2 separate regions of the Homo sapiens genome follow, and region 2 is linked to region 1. The links come from fine-mapping of genetic effects on gene expression. Tissue or cell type: gastroesophageal junction. Region 1 holds a variant in brackets; the other region holds the start of a gene. All regions are shown on one strand. Distances are from middle to middle.

Region 1 (10,560 bases):
ACATGTGTTTACCTATGTAACAAACATTCACATGTACTCCCAAACCTAAAATAAAAACAAATTATAAGGTATTTTATCTTTAATATCATCATTGGCTAGTATAGTACTCATAGTGAAACATTACTATTTGAAAATAATTTGGAGGAAAGCAAACTGGTCAACATGTCATTTGGGTCATGGGGATGGTTTTGTAATGTTTTATGCATCTTTAAGCATTTTTTTGCCAATTTTTCTCCCTCATCCCCTAACTGTGGCGGGTTGTACTTAAAAAAGAAAAAACAAAACACAAACAAACTAGATTTAGTGTACAAAGGGATTGTACTTTTTAATACTAACTTATTTTCATCTACTTTTAACTGCTCTTCAGTGTCATTTCAAAAATTTGGGGTACCCTACATGTCCAATAAATGGTAAATTGCAAAAAAGTATGTGTGACATTAGGTTGTAGAAAAAGGACACATATTCTTTATATAATAGAATATTGAAGGATATAATCTAAGGTATAGGTAATCATATTTTATTACAAAAATAGATTTGCATTATTAAAACTTTCTGCTCCTTACGGAAAATCAGAAACTACAAACTAGCAAATGAATAAAAGAACAGTCAAATTTTGGTGATTTAGAGACAATTGCTACATGGGAAATAATGGTGAAAAAGAAGATATGTATATGAATTGAGGATTAGTGACTATATTAAGAAAAGGTTACTCTTGATAAGATTTTTGGAGGAGGATATAGAATATCAAGTGAATTTGGTGCTAATCTAGGAGGGGTAGCTTGAAATAAATAAGGAACTCTTTTGAAGGATGGTAAAAATGCCTATGGCACAACTTTGCTCAGGGTACCTGTTGTGATGGTGCTCAGTTGTAGCTAACCTGATCTTCCTACCTAAGATTAAAGCACAATTTGTTCACCTACCCCGAGTCTGGATGAGTTAAGCTGAACATTCCTGAATCTAAATTTCTAGACTTATCTTCTTCTACTTTTCCAGCCAAATAATTTTCCTCATGCTTCTGCTAAATTCTTCCCTTTCTTAATCTAGTCACTAATCCCCAGTTCACATACATATCTTCTCTTGACTTTGTGTCTATGCACAAGTTGTTTCATAGAACCATTGCCACCAATCATTGTGTACTGAAACATGTTCACCTTTCAAAGCTCACCTAAAATGCTTCCTTCCCCATGAAGTATTCACTTCTTACCCCACTCCTACTACTCAACCACAAGGAATCTCTTTCTTTTGATCCTCCATAGTACTTTGTATTTTGCTGATGGCCTTTACATTCCGGTAGCATAGAAAGGGGGGCAAAGAGGTGAATTCACAATGTGTGAATTTACAATGTAAAGTTCTTTGTAAACTGAAAAGCATTGTAGAAATATGTGATGTTACCACTGTCTCATCCTCAGAATTACATTCTATGCTTCTTTAGGGCAGACATGATACCTTATTCAACTTTTTGTCCAGATTACCTAATGTAATGTCCAACACATAGTTATTTTAAAAATATTTGCTAAATAGGCTGGGCGCGGTGGCTTACGCCTGTAATCTCAGCACTTTGGGAGGCCGAGGCGGGCGGATCACGAGGTCAGGAGATCGAGACCATCCTGGCTAACACGGTGAAACCCCGTCTCTACTAAAAATACAACAACAAAAAAAATTAACCGGGTGTGGTGGTGGGCGCCTGTAGTCCCAGCTACTCAGGAGGCTGAGGCAGGAGAATGGTGTGAACCCGGGAGGCGGAGCTTGCAGTGAGCCGAGATCGCACCACTGCACTCCAGCCTGGGCAACAGAGCGAGACTCTGTCTCAAAAAAAAAAAATTTGCTAAATAGCATATAGTAGTTCTCTTCCGCCTTCCCTGGCACTGACTCACTGACTCTTTAGGAGTGGTCATGGATCTGAAAGAAATGCTTCTTGTTTCTCCTAAGCTATTATTCACAAATTCTGTAGAAATCTTCGCCGACTGTGAATGATGATAAGATATTCATCCTCCCTATTGAGTTTGTGAGGTATTAGTATATAAGGTTTATTTCCAGGCATCATGCCCAAATGTCTACTCTTTGATGAATGGATAATGAGAAGTTCTCTTGGTCCTTTAGATCTGGGGCGGTTTATGGATATGTGCTTGGTACAGGTGAAGGATTTGTAGTGTAATGCTTTCTATAATGCCCTTAGAATACAGACAGCATTCTAAGGGCATTACAGAAAGTGTTACACTATCTGCATGACCCAAATGACGTGTTGACCAGCTTGCTCTTCTCCAAAAGGGCTTTCTATAATGTCCTTAGAATACAAGGAGAGCAGACATGCTTCTCTGAGTGACACATTTCAGGACACCTGCATTCACTTTGGAATATCTGCCGCACATTATCTCTTGCCCCAGATCTTGTTTTATAGTGCTACCAGGATTTTCCCCCTGCCTCTAGGAGGCTGAAAAGGTAACAGATTCCTTCCACACCAGCATTTTAGATGATTTTGTTATTTATGCCCATTATGAACAGGTGGAACTCAACATAAAATGAAGAAGCCTGGCTCTCTCATTCTACTAGCTACTTCTGGACCATACTGAACTACTTAACAAATGACATAAATTTTCGTTTTTAAAATGTGAGTTATAAGAGTGGGAGGGTTGAGACAAATCACTATTAGATACAGAATTATATTGTTAGGCAGATTTATTCATCAGAAAATTTCCTTTATAAATGTGCATTCATTCATGCACACATATTTACAGAAACATGTTTGTTTCTGCACAGACCATTCCTTTCAGTTCAGTACCCATTTATCGTAGCCTTAATTTGTGCCAGACACCATGCTAGCTCCTGAGCATGGAGAGTTGCATGAATTGCAGCCGTGTCTCACGGAACTTAGATAAACCCTCCAATATGCCTAAGTGTTCACAGGGAATTGGGGAGGACCAGGAATTTTAATTCACTATGACATGTAGGGCAGCAGACACAAAGTATAACAATAGTTCATAGGAAAGTAATCTTATCACAGTCTAAAAGAGCCAAGGAAAACTTCATAAAGATGGTAAAAGTTTTGAAGGATAAGTAGGGGTTCACCAAGCCCAAAAGTGTAAAATAGTGTGGCAGTTTTGGGGTAGTATAGTAAGTAATGTATTTGAGGAGATCTGTGAGATGATCAATTAGAGTACTAGGTAACATATTAGAGCTTCTATTTAAACAGAAATACCAATTAAATATATGCTTAGAAATAATTTCCCTGTCAGATTAGCAAAAATCCATAAATTCTACACACTCTTTTTTTTTTTCTTTTTGTTTTGAGCTAGCATCTCACTCTGCTGCCCAGGCTGGAGTGCAATGGTATGATCATAGCTCACTATAACCTTGAAATCCTGGGCTCAAGCAATCCTCCCACTTTAGCTTTTCAACTAGATGAGACTACAAGCATGTGCCACCATGGTCACCTAATGTTTGTATTTTTTATACAGACGGAGTCTCACTATATTGCTCGGCTTCTATACACTCTTTTGAGCACCCTCTACACTGCTAGTAGGAATGCAAATTAATACAGCCCCTAAGGAAGGCAATTTTGAAATATCTATCAAAATGACAAACACACATGTCTTCTGACCCAGTAATCCCCCTTCAAATAATTTATCATATATACATATACACATATATATTTGCACACTTGCAAAATTACATGCGTGATATAGGTTATTCATTCTAGCATCATTTGTAATACTATTGAGATTCATCCATGTTATTGCATGTACCAGCACTCATTCCTTTTTCTTGTTGAACAGTATTTCATTATAAAGAGGTTTATCCATTGTTTTTCCACATTTATCCGCAATCGGTTTATCTACTTAACAATAGATGGATATGTATTTTTTTCCCAGATTTTGGCTATTTTGAATAAACATTCACCTATAGCTCTTTATGGTATTTTGATTTCTCTTGATTGTCTTCTTATTGACTTGTGAGGGTTCTTTCCATATCCCATATAAATGTCCTTCATCAAGACATTTCATGGAGACATTTTCTCCCAGTCTGGGGCTTTTTTTTTTTTTCCTTTTTCATAGTAGTTCTTCTAAAGACCAGAGTGTTCAATTTTTATTAAGTCCAATTTATCAATTTTATTTTTTATGGTTCATACTTATTGTATCCTATCTAGTAAATGTTTGCCTTAAGCAAGGTCACAAATATTTTCTTGTATGTTTTCTTATAGAAGTTTATAGTTTTAGTTCTAACATTTAGAGCTGTTATTTATTTGAATTTAATTATTCTTACGTAGTGTGTACATGTTAATTTCCAATAAAAACCTTAAAAAGGAAGAGTTTCTAACTTTGTTGACCTTTGTTGGTAAGTATTGTTAGATTAGTGTTACTCCACCTAGTGGATACCTAAAAACACACATTTTATCTGTCAGTTCATATGGCATTTTAATTAAAAATACAAAAGTTGTTTTTTTCCATAAAATAAACAGAAGTATTTTGACACCAAATGTTTTTAAAATTATGATATAATTGTATTTTTGGAACAAATATATCACCTATACAAATTCTCATATCTCCACATGCTTAGGAAACTTACTTAGAAACAGAATTTTTAAACATATTCTAAAGTCCTTCACTTTAAAATGAAGCACTTCAGTGAGATTCCAGTGCTTTTAAAAATTTGAAAATACAGCACCTTCTAGTTAATTGACATTAGGAAACAGCTAATTGACATTAGGAAAAGTGGAAGTATTAAGTTTTCATTGATTTTCAATGAAAACTTTTGAATAAGTGTATGAAATTGAATAGCAAGTATTGGATCTACATATTTTTGTGAGGTATCTTTTTATTTTTAATTTTTTTTTTTTTTTTGAGACCGAGTCTTGCTCTGTCGCCCAAGCTGGAGGGCAGTGGTGCGATCTTGGCTCACTGCAACCTCTGCCTCCTGGGTTCAAGTGATTCTCCTGTCTCGCCCTCCCGAGTAGCTGGGACTGCAGGCACGTGCCACCACACCTGGCTGATTTTTTTTATTTTTAGTAGAGGCGGGGTTTCACCATGTTAGCCAGGATGGTCTTGATCTCCTGACCTCGTGATCTGCCCACCTC[A/G]GCCTCCCAAAGTGCTGGGATTACAGGCGTGAGCCACCGCACCGAGAGGTATCTTTTAAAAATACAGCTGATTATCAAAATAAGCTGAACTTACAATTTAACTTTTGATTGTTGTATTGAAAAATGATTACTCAAAATAAAAATGATTATGCATATTCACTCAGTACTCAGCAAAAATATTAATAGTAAGAGCAAAAAGTATCTTTATACCATTAGTAAAACTAAACGATTTTAAATTATTTCTTCTTTATATCATACTGTAAAATGCTTGTCTATATTTTATAATATAAATAATTTATAAGCATTTAGTACATAACAAATAGATATATCCTTAGCCCTACAACTTTGGGAAGCCGAGTCAGGAGGATTGCTTGAGGTCAGGAGTTTGAGACCAGCCTGGGCATCGTAGCCAGACCCCATCTGTACAAAAAATTTTAAATTAAAATAGCCAGGCATGGTGGTGCACATCTGTTGTCTCAGCTACTCCAGAGGCTGAAATGGGAAGATTACTTGAGCCCAGGAGTTTGAGGCTACAGAGAGCTATGATCATAACACTGCACTCCAGCCTGGGCAGCAGAGTGAGACTCTGTCTCTTAAAAACAAAAAGGAAAAAGAAAATTCCAAGCTTAGAGATGAGAAGAACGGTGATATCATAGACAGATTTATGAACATATTTAAAAAGATGTCAGTTTATGATGGGAGAATGTTGAACTCAATTGCAAAGGTTAAATTTGAAGTCGTTTTGGTAAGTCATTATTTTTCTCTACATTTTACTAAAAAAAAAACAGATTGAGGAAAAATGGATTGATATCCTTAATGGATAAAGGTCACGTACAAATCAATAGAAATAAAAACACATTTTCAATGAAAAATGGGCAAAGACAATAGCCAGGAATTCATCAGAGAAAATACCCAAATGACCAATAAACATGTGAGAAATGTTCAACCTCATAAATAATTTATGAAACGTGAAATCAAAAAAATAATAACTTATAAAGATGATCAGAATAGGCTTTAGCAGAATTATGTTGCTTCTTTGGAGAAATGATTCTTTTACATAATTAGACTTGAATGCACTTAGAATATACTCAGAATCGCTGACTGATGGAAATGAGAATCTGAGAGGGAGCACAGTAGGGCGATGCCACAGGACAGATGGGCCAGGAATGGACTGAGAGGGGCTGACAGTTGGAGGAATTAATAGTGACTACACCAAGTGGAGAAGGCAATCTTTCCCAACATACCTGGAGAAGTTAAGAAAGCACCGGCTGGGCGCGGTGGCTCACCCCTGTAATCCCAGAACTTTGGGAGGTTGAGGTGGGTGGATCACAAGGTCAGGAGATCGAGACCATCCTGGCTAACACGGTGAAACCCTGTCTCTACTAAAAATACAAAAAATTAGCAAGGTGTGGTGGCGGGTGCCTGTAGTCCCAGCTACTTGGGAGGCTGAGGCAGGAGAATGGCGTGAACTCGGGAGGTGGAGCTGGCAGTGAGCCGAGATCGTGCCACTGCACTCTAGCCTGGGCAACAGAGCAAGACTCTGTCTCAAAAAAAAAAAAAAAAAAAAAAAAAGAAAAGAAAAAAAAAAGAAAAGAAAAAAGAAAGCACCAGACAAATAGAAAAGTATTTTGCAAATACTTTTCTGCCAAAAGTTGCAGAATCTTAGGCACATCAATACAGAACATAAAGTTTGTCATGTACACTCCAGTATCCAAGAAATGGAGAAATGTTGTTTGAATATCTAAGAGGATGCCCTAGGAATTCAAAAGAGAAAAATAGATCCTGTTAAAGCATAATCATCGGGGGAAATAGAATTCCTCCAACTCCATTTGGAGTCTACAGAAAACATTAAGGAACACTATAATTATGAAGAAACTTCCTTTCACCAGCTTCAGGACTTGTGGTGCATTTTATGGCAAGTCTTCATCTTGATCAAGATTAATGCAGTTAGCTAGTTTCCTTCTCAACATACTGCTGATTCTTTGAATGTCTTTAGCGACTACCTTCTATTCTAACTGAATGAAGCTTAGAAACCTCAGAGTGCCTCCTCATTTTGCAGGCTGAAATTTTTGAGGCCAAGCTGCCATGCTATGTAGAATGGACTTTCAGGACCTCAAGCCCTTGTTTATCTACCTTTTGGAAAGAAATTTAAAAAAATTATAAGTAGATTCTGGATCTGACCTTCAGCATACATACTTCTTTGGATCATCTATCTCCTTGGAGAAGTAGTGGCCTTCATTCAGATGCAATTTTTGGTTAGTTTTCTCAGTTTTCACAGAGAATGTCAGACCTCTGACTTGCCTGATAACACACATGAGTCTATTTAAGTGACAGCAGAGAAAATCTGCAGTTTCAGTAACGGTCAAGCATTATGTATCAATTGCTGAGATGTTATCAATATCTCAGCTGAGTGAGAGAAGTCATGTTCTGGGAAGACTGACAGAGAATTTATACTTTGTGCTGGCTGCTGTGGTGTATTTTCCAGATCTGGCCCTTCAGGACTGACACACTCATTTCCCCAGCTGCTCACACTGTTGGCTACTGATGTCTCACAGTTCCTCTTCAGAAATCACCCTTAGCAGAAGGAGGCTGACTTATCCAAGGTTACGTCCTCTCCCTGGAGACAGCTTCCATCCAGCTATTGGTTGGGGTGAGGGCACAGGTGACCTTCTTTCCTTCATCTCTGAAGGGCGATCCAGCTCCAGGTCTCTCTCTGGGATTGACTGAAGCCTCTCCAGCTGCTGCATCACAGTTTAAGTTCTGCCCAGTTTACTTCCCTGGCACCCCTATAGGTGTTCCTCCTGAGCGCACGCCCCAATAAACTCCCTGTGTGCAGATCACCATCTCAGACGTTATTTCCACAGAGCCTGAACTAGGATGTACTCCGAATATTCTTTTAGGTATTGTAAACTCAACACCTGGATCTAGCTGGATCATAAGAGAGATTACTAGTGGTCACCATAAAATTGCTTACTTTTAATTTGTTTTAAGGAGTTACCTCTGCCTTTGTGGGATGATTCCTTAAAGAACAACCTGTCTGGCACAGGCTGGGGAATTGTGGGAATAATGGCAAGTTACAGCAGCTTATGCTTGTAATCCTAGCACTTCGGGGGGCCAAAGTGGGAGAAGTGCTTGAGGACAGGAGTTCAAGACCAACCTGGGCAACATATTGAGGCATCCCCCACCTCCCCCTCACTATGTAAAATACCAAAAATTAGCCGGCTGATAATGGTGCATGCGTGTGGTCCCAGGTACTCAGGAGGCTGAGTTGCAAGGATCTTTTGACCCCAGAAGTGTGAGGGTATAGTGAGCTATGATTGTACCATTGCACTCCAGACTCAGTGACAGAATGATACTCTATCTCTAAGAAAAAAAAAAAGTTATAATCGCTACTCTAAACTTGCCATTATTCCCACAATTTCATTTCTTTTTTAAAAATTAAAAAAAATTGGTCACTATTTTTACAATTTCATTTCTGCATTGGCTGCATGCAAAGATGTATAAATACAGATAATGATCATAACAGTTTAGAAATAAGAAAATAATGGAAACTATGAACATTCACCACACATACATTAGTTAAAATTTAAAAACACATGTAACAATATATTCATATTGTTTACTTGTTTAATCTCATTTTTTAAATGCCCTAAATATGTCCAAGAGTGAAGACATATGAAGTATGTCATGACAGATCATGACATTAGATGTATAGTAATTAAATACATAGAAGTAAAAGCTGAAACCACATTATTCTTACAACTTCATAAAATGGTATGCATTTGACTCATTTTACTTATTTTTTAGAGACAAGGTCTCACTCTGTCACCCAGGCTGGAGTGCAGTGGCATTATCGTAGCTCACTGTAGCCTGGAAATTCTGGGCTGAAGCAATCTTCCCACCTCAGCCTGCTGAGTAGCTGGGATTACAGGCCCATGCCACTGCACCCAGCTCTCATTTTTATTTAATTTCAGACAGATATTATATTAATAAAACATGCGTGCTATAAAAATTTAACATTTTATTAAATCAATTTAATTTTTAAGCAAATTCTATGAATGTTCTTCAAAATAAAGAAGTTTTAAGGCTTAGTTGTGACAGATTAATTTTAATAACCATGGAATGACTTTCCAGCATAACTAAATTATTTATTTATTTAGAAATGGAGTCTTGCTTTGTAGCCCAGCCTGGAGTGCAGTGGTGCAATCTCGGCTCACTGCAACCTCCACCTCCGGGTTCAAGCAATTCTCCTGTCTGAGCTTCTGGAGTAGTTGAGATTATAGGCCCCCGTCACCATGCCCGGCTAATTTTTGTTTGTTTGTTTGTTTGTTTTTAGTGGTTTCATCATGTTGGCCAGGCTGGTCTCCCAGCCTCAAGTAATCTGCCCACCTCAGCCTCCCAAAGTGCTCGGATTACAGGTGTGAGCCACCACACCCGGCCAGCTAAATGATTTTTATATCTATTAAATTTGCATCAACCAACTTATAGCTATAGTTACTATTTATTAATTATCTCTGTATACTAGTTTTTTATTTGCACAATGTGCCATTTATTCCTATTAACCTTATGAAATTGACTTTATTCAAGTTTTATTGATAACAAACTGACCTTCAACAGATTTAGCCTGAGGTTGCTTATCTAGTTCATAGAATTTTCAGACTCAACTTCCAGCCTATCTTTTTCAAAGTTTTCTCTTTTGCTTATTTGCCAAGATATATGTTCAAATTACATATATTTTAACTGAATCCATCCATGAAACATTGTAATAGATATTTAATAGCTTGATGTAACCAACGAAGTGTTAAATGAAAACAGTACTACAACATAAACTCCATTTTGAAATGTAAATGTACACCCATGGACATAGAAAAAAATGTCTGAAATTACATACATACTTGAATGGGGGAATTATGAATGAGTTTTAACCTAGTAGACTTTTTTACTTTGTAAAATACATAAGATGGGTAAGTTTCAACTTATAACTAGAAAAAAAGGAGTTTTACAAATATAAAGTTGCTTCCAGTTTTTTTTTTTGAGATGGGATTTTACAATGTTGCCCAAGCTGGACTCTAACTCTTGGGCTCAAGTGATCCCCCTCCTCAGCTTCATAAATAGTTGAGACTACAGGGCTTCTTGTTTTTAAATGGAGCATATTCGTTTCCTCGATCACTTTAGGAAGTGCAATTTACTTTGAGCTGACTTTAAAATGAACTCAGGACACTTTACATTTTTCCTTGTTTGAAAGACAGAAAAAAATCCAATTTATTTCTTCAAACTTTCCACTAGGTGGTGCTAAAGTGAAATTAATTAAATTGCCTTTTAAAAAATCCACTAGTTCTCAAACTTTAGATCTTAGTTTGGTGTTCAAGGTGTCTTTGATTTCCCCTCTCAATCTCTTCATTGTGTTACTGCTGATAAACAAAAGCAGATCAACTTGTTGCAAGTCTAGAGCTGATTTAATGCAACACCTATAAGGTGACATCTATCAA
Region 2 (10,560 bases), 78 kb after region 1:
AAAGATATTCCATGCAAACAGAAACGAAAAGAGCAGAGGTAGCTACACTTATATCAGACAAAATAGATTTAAGTTAAATACTATAAAAAGAGAAAAAGAAGGCTATTATATAATAACAAAGAAGTTAAATCACCACAAAGACATAACTATTGTAAATATACACCCACCTAAAATCAGAGCACCTAAATACATAAAGCAATTACTAAATGATCTAAAGGAAAAAATATAATTTAATAATATTACAGTAGGGCTCTCCATATTCCATTTTCAGTAATGGACAGATCATCTAGAGAGAAAATCCATAAAGAAACTATGGACTTGCATTACACTTTAGAGTAAATAGACCAAACAGAAATATACAGAACACTGTATCCAATAGCAACAAAATACACATCCTTCTTAAGTGCACATAGAACATTCTCCAGGATAGCCCATATGTTAATGCACAAAACAAATCTTAACAAATTTAAGAGAATTGAAATCATATCAAGTATCTTTTGAGATCACAATGGAATGAAACCAGAAATCAGTAACAGGAGATATCTTGGAAAATACACAAATGTGTGGAAATGAAACAACATGCTCCTAAACAACCAATAGGTTAAAGAAGAAAGCAAATAGAAAATAAAAAATTACCATGAGACAAAAGAAAATGGTAAGACAATGTATCAAAACTTATGGGAGACAGCAAAAGCAATCCTAAGAGGGAAATTCATAGCAATGAACACCTATATAAAAAAAGAAAGGTTACAAATAATCTAACATTACCACTCAAGAAACTAGAAAAATAAGTATAAACTAAGCCCAATGATAGCAGAAGAGGGGAAATAACAAAAATCAGCACAGAAATAAATGAAATAGAGACTAGAAAAACAATAGAAAATATCAACAAAACTAAGTTGGTTTTTTGAAAAGATAAAGTTGACAAACCCATAGCTAGACTAACTAGGAAAACAAGAGCCTACTCAAACAAGATTAGAAAAGAAAGAGGAGACATTACAATATACATTGCCTATATCTACTATAATAGACATATATACACACACAAATCAATATGTGATATACCACATTAATCAAGGATAAAAATCATATAATGATTTCAATACATGCAGAAAAAACATTTGAAAAATCCCAACATCCTTTTATAATAAAACTCTTAACAAGGCCAGGCGCGGTGGCTCACACCTGTAGTCCCAGCACTTTGGGAGGCCAAGACGGGCAGATGGCGAGGTCAGGAGATTGAGACCATCCTGGCTAACACAGTGAAACCCTGTCTACTAAAAATACAAAAAAATTAGCCTGGTGTAGTGGTGGGCGCCTGTAGTCCCAGCTACTCTGGAGGCTGAGGCAGGAGAATGGCGTGAACCTGGGAGGTGGAGCTTGCAGTAAGCTGAGATCACGCCACTGCACTCCAGCCTGGGAAACTGAGCAAGACTCCATCTCAAAAAAAAAAAAACAAAAACAACAACAAAAAAAACTCTTAACAAATTGGGTATAGGTATAGAGGGAATGTACCTCAACACAATAAAGGCTACATATGACAAACCCTTAGCTAATATCATTCTCAACAGTAAAACACTGAAAGCTTTTCCTCTAAGATCAGTGACAAGACAAGTATGCCTACTCTCACCACTTCTTTTCAATATAGTACCGTAAGTCCCAGCTAAAGCAATTAGGCAAGAGGAAAAATTTGAAGCCTAATAGGAAATGAAGAAGTGAAAATATCCCTATTTTCTATGACATGATCTTATATATGAATCCACCAAAAAACTATTAGAACTGATAAATTAACAGTAAAGTTACAGAATACAAAATCAACATATAAAAGTCAGCAGCATTTTTATATAGTAATAACAAATTAAAATGAAATTAACAAGACCATCCCCTTTAAAATAGTAACAAAAAATTAAATACTTAGGTGTAAATTTAATGAGCAGGTAAAAGGCCTGTACACTGAAAACTATAAAACACATAAAAATACAAGTAAATAAGAAAATACAAGCAAATGGAAAGATATCTCATGTTCATGGATTGGAAGAATTAAAATTGGGAACATGTCTATATGACTGACCTACGGCAATATACAGATTCATTGTAATCTCTACAAAATTCCAGTGTCACTTTTTTCACATAAATGTAAAAAAATCCTTAAATTTGTATGAAACCACAAAAGACCCCACATACCTAAAACAATCTTGAGAAAAAAAATCAAAGTTGAAGCCATCATACTCTGATTTCAAGACATATTATAATTATAGTAATTTAATCAAACTAGCATGGTACTGGCATAAAATTACGGGCATTGACCAATGCACTAGGATAGAAGGCCCAAAAATAAACCAATACATATACTGTCAATTGATTTTTGACAAAGGTGCCAAGAACACACAATGGGGAAAGGGCATCTTCTTCAATAAACAGTGTTGGAAAATCTGGAAATTAGACCCTTATCTCTCACCATGAACAAAAATCAACTAAAGTGAATTAAGCAGTTAAATATGAGACCTGAAACTGTAAAATTACTAGAAGAAAACACATGGGAAAAACTTTATGACATTGGTCATTTACATTTAATATTTTACTATTACAAAAAGATGCTCCAAAGAGCATACTTACACATATTTTTTTTGTTCACATGAGCACGCATTAATCTAGGTACACACTTATATCCAGAATGTACTGGGTTACAGAACATTTAGATCTTCACCTTTACCAGATATTGCTTAATTTTTCTCAAAAATAGTTATAATAATTACAATTCCACAAGAAATGCAGAGAACTGTCATTTTACTACATCCTTGACTTATTATCAAAGGCTTACATTTTTGTCAATTTACAGAAACCTGCTTCCAAAGATGGAGGAAGCTGGGAGACCAAAGAGGCTGACCAATCGAATTTCTCAGAAAGAAATACTTAGTAGAGACAAACAGAAGCGACCCCTGCACTTGCCCTCCAGAAAGTATGCTTTATTTAGCAAGCCTCTAGGGTAAAGACAAGTGCAACTAGTTAGCTCTTAGACTATTGTGATCACTGGGGACGTTAGATAAGCATCTTTATGAGGGGTTATATATGTTATGAGCATTGTTTAAAGACCTTTGCTGCAGAACACCTCGGTATGCTGTGGGTCAAACATCAGTCCCCAGGATAGTTTTGCTTCAAGATGGTGTCACTCTTGCCAGGAAACAGGCTGTTTTTCTACACAGTCTAATGGATGTGACATATTATCTTGCATTTTTCTGATGACTACAGAAAGTTTGGTTTGCTTTTCACATTCTTTTTCCATTTTTCTATTGTGTCATTTTTCTTATTATTTCTTCGCATATTTTAGAAATACTTTATATTTTATAACTATATTTTCCAAGTTTGTGCTTTAACTTTAATTTTCTTATATAGTCAATTTTTAATTAACATTTTTATTTTTAATGTTTTATGAAACTCTTCCAACAGCCTAAGTTAGGAAGATATATTTATATATTTTCTTATCAAAGTATAATATTTTGCTTTCGTATTTACATATGCACTTCACCTCGAGTTTATTTTTGTGTGTAACGCCGGGTAAAAAATTTTTCCTATGTGGATAGTCAATTATTCTGGCACCACAAGTTCATATTTACAAGGCTACTTGTCTATTTAATCATGCTCAAAACCAGCTCGGCCCTTTCATGTCTTTCATCACATCCTTTGTTGCTTACCTCTCACCACACCCTTCTACAGAAGCGTTATTTTCTTGTTAAACCAGACTATTCACTGCATTTACTCTTCTTGCAACATGCTAAAATTGTTCCTGTTGTCTCTACGAGTCACGCTTTCTGCCTTTTTTCCTTACTGAATTTAAACCTCTTGTGAAAAAGACTGTCCAATTTACGTTTTCACCCTTAATACTGAGCATTGATGTAGCAGGTTTTCAAATATTCTTGTTTTATGCTGAATTTCAGTTGGCCCTTATAGATGGAAACTTTCACTGAGTACAAGCTATATATCCATGTATTTAGGAACAATCAACAGTTTTAACGAATAGGAACCAGTCATCTTTTCTGCCCCGGTGGATAGGCTTAGTGGTGGTCGGTGGATGGCGCTGACCGCGGTTGATCAGAGGAAGCTGACGCCGTTTGCAGGCGTGGCCTGGGCGTGCCCGCTTCAAAGTAGACGCCCGGAGTTGGCCCAGTTCTGACCCTAGTGATGCGCCTGTGCGTGTGTTCCTATCGCCGTCCCGTCTTCACTTCCTACAGATGCCGCGACCCCCCAAATAGCAAGTGTGGACATTCACATTCAGGGGCACAGGCTGTCCGTACAGCGAACGTTGTCACCATTCCCGGAGATAGGGCCCCGACCTTCAAGGGGGCGGTGCGGTTGGCGCGCAGTTCTCAGGCGCCTTCTAGAATCCCCTGCCAGCCTCCCCGCTGCCTGGTTACCAAACTCGGCCGGGGACACCCAACCTCCCCTCTCGAGGACCTGGGTTGGCCAGCCCAGCTTTGTACGGGTGACTGAAGTCCACATCGACGTAACAGTTGAAAGGGAAGGACGCGGAGACCACCCGGTACCCGCCCCAGGCGTTTCCAGAGTCTCCGCTTAGGCGGCCCGTGGGGGTCGGGGTCGCGGTCGCGGTCGCGGACCGGGGACAGAGCAATGGGGCGGGCGCGCAGCGCCGGCTGCACTCCCAGAGCCTCCCACCGCCGCCCCACGGCCGCCTAGCGCGCGCCGGGACTGCATTTCCCATAGGCCCACGCTGCGGAGCACCGCCCACCCGAGTCTCACGCGAGTGCGCTGCCGCGAGGTGTCCCTGCCGCAGCCCCCGCCCGCCCGCAGAGCTTTTGAAAGGCGGCGGGAGGCGGCGAGCGCCATGGCCAGTCCGGGCTGCCTGCTGTGCGTGCTGGGCCTGCTACTCTGCGGGGCGGCGAGCCTCGAGCTGTCTAGACCCCACGGCGACACCGCCAAGAAGCCCATCATCGGTAAGGAGGCTGTGCGGGGCCGCAGCAGACGGGGAGGAGCTGGGTGTTGGCGCTGGGCGCCTCCCGCCGCCGCGCTCCAGCTGGCGCGTCCCGCCGGGAAAAACCCCCAGATGTGCTTCGCTTTTGGTGCAAGGAGGAACCCGGGCTGGGCACCATTTAGGTCGTACTGAAATGTACCTGGTTGAGGTACCTCGTTCATTCCTTTAGACTCATATGACTCTTAAAGGTGGGAGGGAGGAGGGTGCACCATGAAGAATCCTGCGGATTTTCTTTTTTTGTACACAGCTAGGAATTTCTACTAAAATAAAACATTTCCTTTTCGCACATAGTTGGGAAGTTTTACTCATTTACATCTACAAATTCTGTACATGCATTGCATTCATCAAAATGTATTGATGGCGTATTTAAAATACCAGTGCATTGTAATAGAAAATCAAGAAATTAAGGTATAACTTGGATTTTGTCATGTTCAGTAGCAGAGGACAACAGTGGCTGATATCCTAATGTGAGTTCTATTTGGTGTTAAAATGCAGCCCACAATTTTTCGTTTCCAACATATTTGTGTTTTAAAGAGGTAGTAAAATCAGTCTGTGTTACCAAAACACACATTTGAGACAGGCCCAAGGAAAGCTACCTAGGAGAAATCATCCTGGGGTTAAAATTTGCCCAAAGAAATTTGTGTGTGGACATTAAGATTAGTTTTATTTTGGCTGTAGGATTATGCCTTTCATACTATTTTTTTCTATGAATATTATCACTGTATTCTGTAACTAAACAGAAAGTAGATGAATGTTTTTTCATATAGGTAGTGCCCAGTTTTCAAATGGGTTGCTTACTAATATTTGGAACTTATTTCATAGCTGTTTAACATGGTGATTTGATTCTCCACGAATTAACTCAAGCTGTAATTAATGTAACAGGTTGCATATTGTGTGTCCAGAGAAGAGAAAAAAAAGCAGAGGGGATTCTTCCCCTTTCCTAGAATCAGGGGTAGCCCTGCGTCAAATATTTAAAAAAGGGACTTTGCTTTTGGTCACTGAGATCAGCACAACATCGTTAACTGAGTACCGACTATGTACACAATCTTGCTCTGGGAAGTGCAAAGGATTGAAAGATGACAAGCCACAAAAGTTGTGAGATGGCCTTAAATTATTGGTGGAATTTTGGTCATATTTTGAGGGACAGGGAGAACAGCTTGAGCTCTTTTCCCAGGGATGGGAAAAGTGAATATGCGTGGGCCCAGGGGAAGGGGAGATGTTGGTGGAACTCACTCTGATGTACTTCTCTTTCTGGTACCCTTGTGCTCCCATGATGCCCCATGTCTCCTTTGTGGTACCTCACCCCATGTACCCTGTACCACTCCATTTCCTATGACACTCCTAGTTCTTCGTTCCCTAGCCAAACTTTGTTATTCCTTAGTGAAGATGATCTTACCTACCAGTAAGGAGAAAAAGTTTTACTGAACAAATTTTGGCGTTTGACATGTTAATCTGAATACCTGATGAATGCCAATTGTAAGAAGCTGGGAATACAAAAGTGAGTAATACAGACAACAGCTCTTCCTATCAGGTGGCCTACAGAGACACTGAAAGTGTTCCAAATGCTGAAGTGCTGAATAGGAGTAGGCACAGGTACTCACCCGACAGACGTGTTTTGATGTATACTGGTTGCTATACTCTGCTGGGGCTGGGTTTCACTGGTAAAAGGAGGCCAGAGAGATGGGTGGGGCAGAGCATACGGGTCTTACAGAGTTTATTAAAGTTTAGGGACCCACTGAGGTAGTTAAACAAAGTGGTGACACCTGCTTGCTGATCTATCGCTACCTGATGTCCTTTCCTATTGCTTTCTGCTTTCACTCACCTGGCTCTAATAATATGGATTCCTTGCAACGTGACAGGCACAAATCTGACTCCTGGCCTTTGCACTTGCTATTCCTTTGTCCTGGATTGCTCTTTTCCCAGATATATGAATGTGGTTTACTCTGTCACCTCTCTGAAGTCCTGGCTCAAATGTCATGTTTTACCTTCTCAGGGAGGACTTGCCTGGCCACCGTGTTGAAGAGACTGTCCTTTCCTACATAGATGGGCTCTCCTTCCCCACCGTCTTTCTCTCCTTAGTGCTTACGACCAGCCATCACTCTATATATTATGCCTTTTTGTCTTGTTTATTGTTTGTCCTCTTTCCCCTCCCTGCTACACCCTCGAATTAATGCACACAGGGCAGGGGCTTTTGTTTGGTTCACTCATAGTCATGTGTCCCCAGCAGCTAGTTTGTTGCCTGGCATGAGGTATGATTCAACAGTATATATTGAATGACTGTAGGAATAGGAATGGTGATATGATCCGATTTGCTTCTACATGGGGAGCTGCTTGGAGCTTGGGGGGGTTTCTTAAGAAAAGATATAACAAGACCTTCTAAGAGTCTATTATGATAGTGTGGTGGGGAGAGGGTAGATATTGATAGCTTGGGCTAAGGTAATGTTGGAGAGGTGTGGATGGAAGATGTTTTCACTCCTTTGCTTCGTTGTCAGGGAATCAGTGTGTCTGTGAGTATGTGTGGGAAAGGAGTGACAGCCTTGTAAATTTAAGGATCTATATTCTTTAGATGGATTCTAGGTCTACAGTTGTGTGAAGGCTGCAAGTGCTATTGTAAGCCTTCTTTGGGGGCTTATTTGGCCTCCCTAATGAGGTGAGAGATAGATCTACTTGAAAGTAAGATCAGCCTCCCCTGCTGCTTTCCCATAGGCTATGGGTGGACTTGGAGGAGAGACTTCCTATTTAATTCTGTGGATTGAAATAATAAAATATGATATTTTTGCTGTGATATATTTCAGTTTCTGAGCAAGAAGAAAAGGAATTTGCTTGAAACTAAACTTTTTTTTGTTATTAGGAATATTAATGCAAAAATGCCGTAATAAAGTCATGAAAAACTATGGAAGATACTATATTGCTGCGTCCTATGTAAAGTACTTGGAGTCTGCAGGTGCGAGAGTTGTACCAGTAAGGTATGATTCAGTGTTTTTTTTTTTTTTTTACTCTGTATAAAAAATTGCTGCGTACGGGTGCGGTGCCTCATGCCTGTAATTCTAGCACTTTGGGAGGCCAAGGCGGGTGGACTACTGAGGTCAGGAGTTCGAGACCAGCCAGGCCAACCTGGTGAAGCCCTGTCTCTACTAAAAATACAAAAATTAGCTGGGTGCAGTAGTGCACTCCTGTAATCCCAGCTACTGGGGAGGCTGAGGCAGGAGAATCGCTTGAACCAGGGAGGTGGAGGTTGCAGTGAGTTGAGATCGCACCACTGCACTCCAGTTTGGGCAACAGATCGAGACTCCATCTCAAAATAATAATTACTGCCTAATATCTCTAAAATTCGTGCTTTCTCTCTTATGATTACATTGTTTAAATGCAGTAACATTGCACCTGATTTTTGACACAAACATGTTGCTTAGAGTCTCTCATTGAATTGTTTAATGTGGGAAGCTGTGTGTTACCTGTAACGTCATTAGAGGTACCATATGTCATATGCATTAACATCAAGAATGAAATGATAGTTTCCTTTATCCCAGAAAAGGTGGTTCTCACAGACACTATGAAGGTAATGGAGTAAAATAATCTAAAGTGGTTGGGGGGGCGGGGTGAGGGATAAAAAATTACATATTGGGTACAGTGTACATTGCTCGGGTGGCTGGTTCATTGAAATCTCAGACTTCATCACTATACAGTTCATGCATGTAACCAAAAACCATTTTTACCCCAAAGGCTATTGAAATAAGAAAAAAATTTTAATGAATCTACAATTTAACCAGCTTTGTTCTATAATATTAGGATAAGAGAACAGTTAGGGAATGAAGGAGGTTTTTAGAAGATGACTTTTAAAATACCTTCACACTCTACTTTAAAAGTTTGTAAATTACCAGTGCATTAGGGTTGCTTCAGTGTGGATTATAGGTATTGCAGTTTTAAAGGCACTGCATTATTTTTGTGATAAAATGTTCCTATAAGAATAAAATGATTCATCTCATTTTCATTTAGAACTGAATTCTTCCCATATTTTTCATCTGGAAGGAGCTAACAACCAGAATCTTATAAGGATTTGTAATGTCTTGTCAGCTAAAATTAATGTATTTTAGAATCTTTGAGCACCTCATCTAATCCATTTTGAGTGATTTCACACATAAAACACTATTTATTCTGTACAGCCTGTTTTTGCAAACAATTCCTCATCAAAAATTATAACAAAAATACTGTTCAAATATAATACTACTAATAAAATGCAAATATTACAATTTAGAGAATTGTACCACAAAATGGCTTTAGGTTTAGATTTATAAGAATTGTCTTCTTGTATGATCTTTTACATTTAAATTAACTGTTTCTACACCAAGATTGCCATTTGCTTTTGATATTAGTCTTTAATATTTTAGTAGCCTATCTAATTTTTCAAACGAAATTTTATTTGAAGCCCATATAACGCCAGAGTTTTAGAGCTGAGGAAGAGGCTCCAGAGAGTCTTCAGAACAGTGTTTCAAAGTTTTCATCAGGGAAACTTTTTAATGCAAGCTGTTCTTCTGGGATGTTAGTGCTGACCGTGTGGATGGGAGATATATATAAAAATATATATATATTTTTATATATATTATATATATATATAAGGAGAGACATATATATATATATATAAGGAGAGACAAAAGGCAGAGCAGCCATAAAAAAGAATGAAATCATATCCTTTGCTGCAATGTGAATGCAGCTGGAGGCCCAAGTGAATTAATGCAGAAACAGAAAACCAAATACCACATATTCTCACTTATAAGTGGGAGCTAAACATTGGGTACACATGGACCCAAAGATGGCAGCAATAGATGCTGGCGGCTACTAGAGGAGGAGGGCAATAAGGGCTGAAAAACTACCTATTGGATACTGTGCTCACTACCTGGGTGACAGGATCATTTGTACCCCAAACCTCAGCATCACACAATATACCCATGTAGCAAATCTGCACATGTACCCTCTGAATCTAAAATAAAAGTTAAAATTATAAAAAATAAATGAAGTAAAATCATAACTGAAAGAGGAGACATTACAACTAATGCTACAGAAATAAAAAGGTTCATAAAAGACTACTTAAACTATATGCCAACAACATGTGTAACCTAGAAGAAATGAATAAATTGTTAGAAACACACAGTCTACCAAGACTGAATCATAAAGAAATAGGTAACAAACCTGTCACTGGTGGAGAGATTGAAATGGTAATCAAGAGCCTCTCAACACAGAAAAGCCCAAGACCAGCTGGCTTCACTGGTGAATTCTACCAAACATCTAAAGCAGAATTGATACCAGTCCTTCTCAAACTCATCCAAAAAATTGAAGACAGTACAATTCCAAGAATGAACCCCAGTGTAAACTAGGTCTTGGGCAATTATGATGTGTCAGTGTATTTTTATCAACTGTTACAGTGTACCACCCAAGATGTTAATGGAGGAAGCTATACATGTTTTGGGGCAGGGGTTATAAAGGAAATACTTAACCTTCTCTTAATTTTGCTGTGAACCTGAAATTACTCTAAAAAATAAAGTCTTTAAAAAAATAAAACAAAATGCCTAAAGGCAGGT

Evidence for each region. PIP is the estimated chance that this variant, and not a neighbour inherited with it, causes the effect.
Region 2: GGH starts here. The variant in region 1 is fine-mapped to the expression of GGH in gastroesophageal junction (GTEx, PIP 0.97).

What each region holds. Positions count from the first base shown.
Region 1 is chr8:63,111,044-63,121,603 of GRCh38, reverse strand. No RefSeq gene overlaps it. Among named protein-coding and RNA genes, the nearest start is that of TTPA, 30 kb to the right of the region's middle. The variant A/G (reference allele first, on the strand shown) is at 5,072.
Region 2 is chr8:63,033,049-63,043,608 of GRCh38, reverse strand. It overlaps GGH (gamma-glutamyl hydrolase), which reads left to right and starts at 4,803. Exons shown (of 9, transcript NM_003878.3): 1 at 4,803-4,949; 2 at 7,839-7,953. The coding sequence starts at 4,841. RefSeq lists a silencer at 4,410-4,769.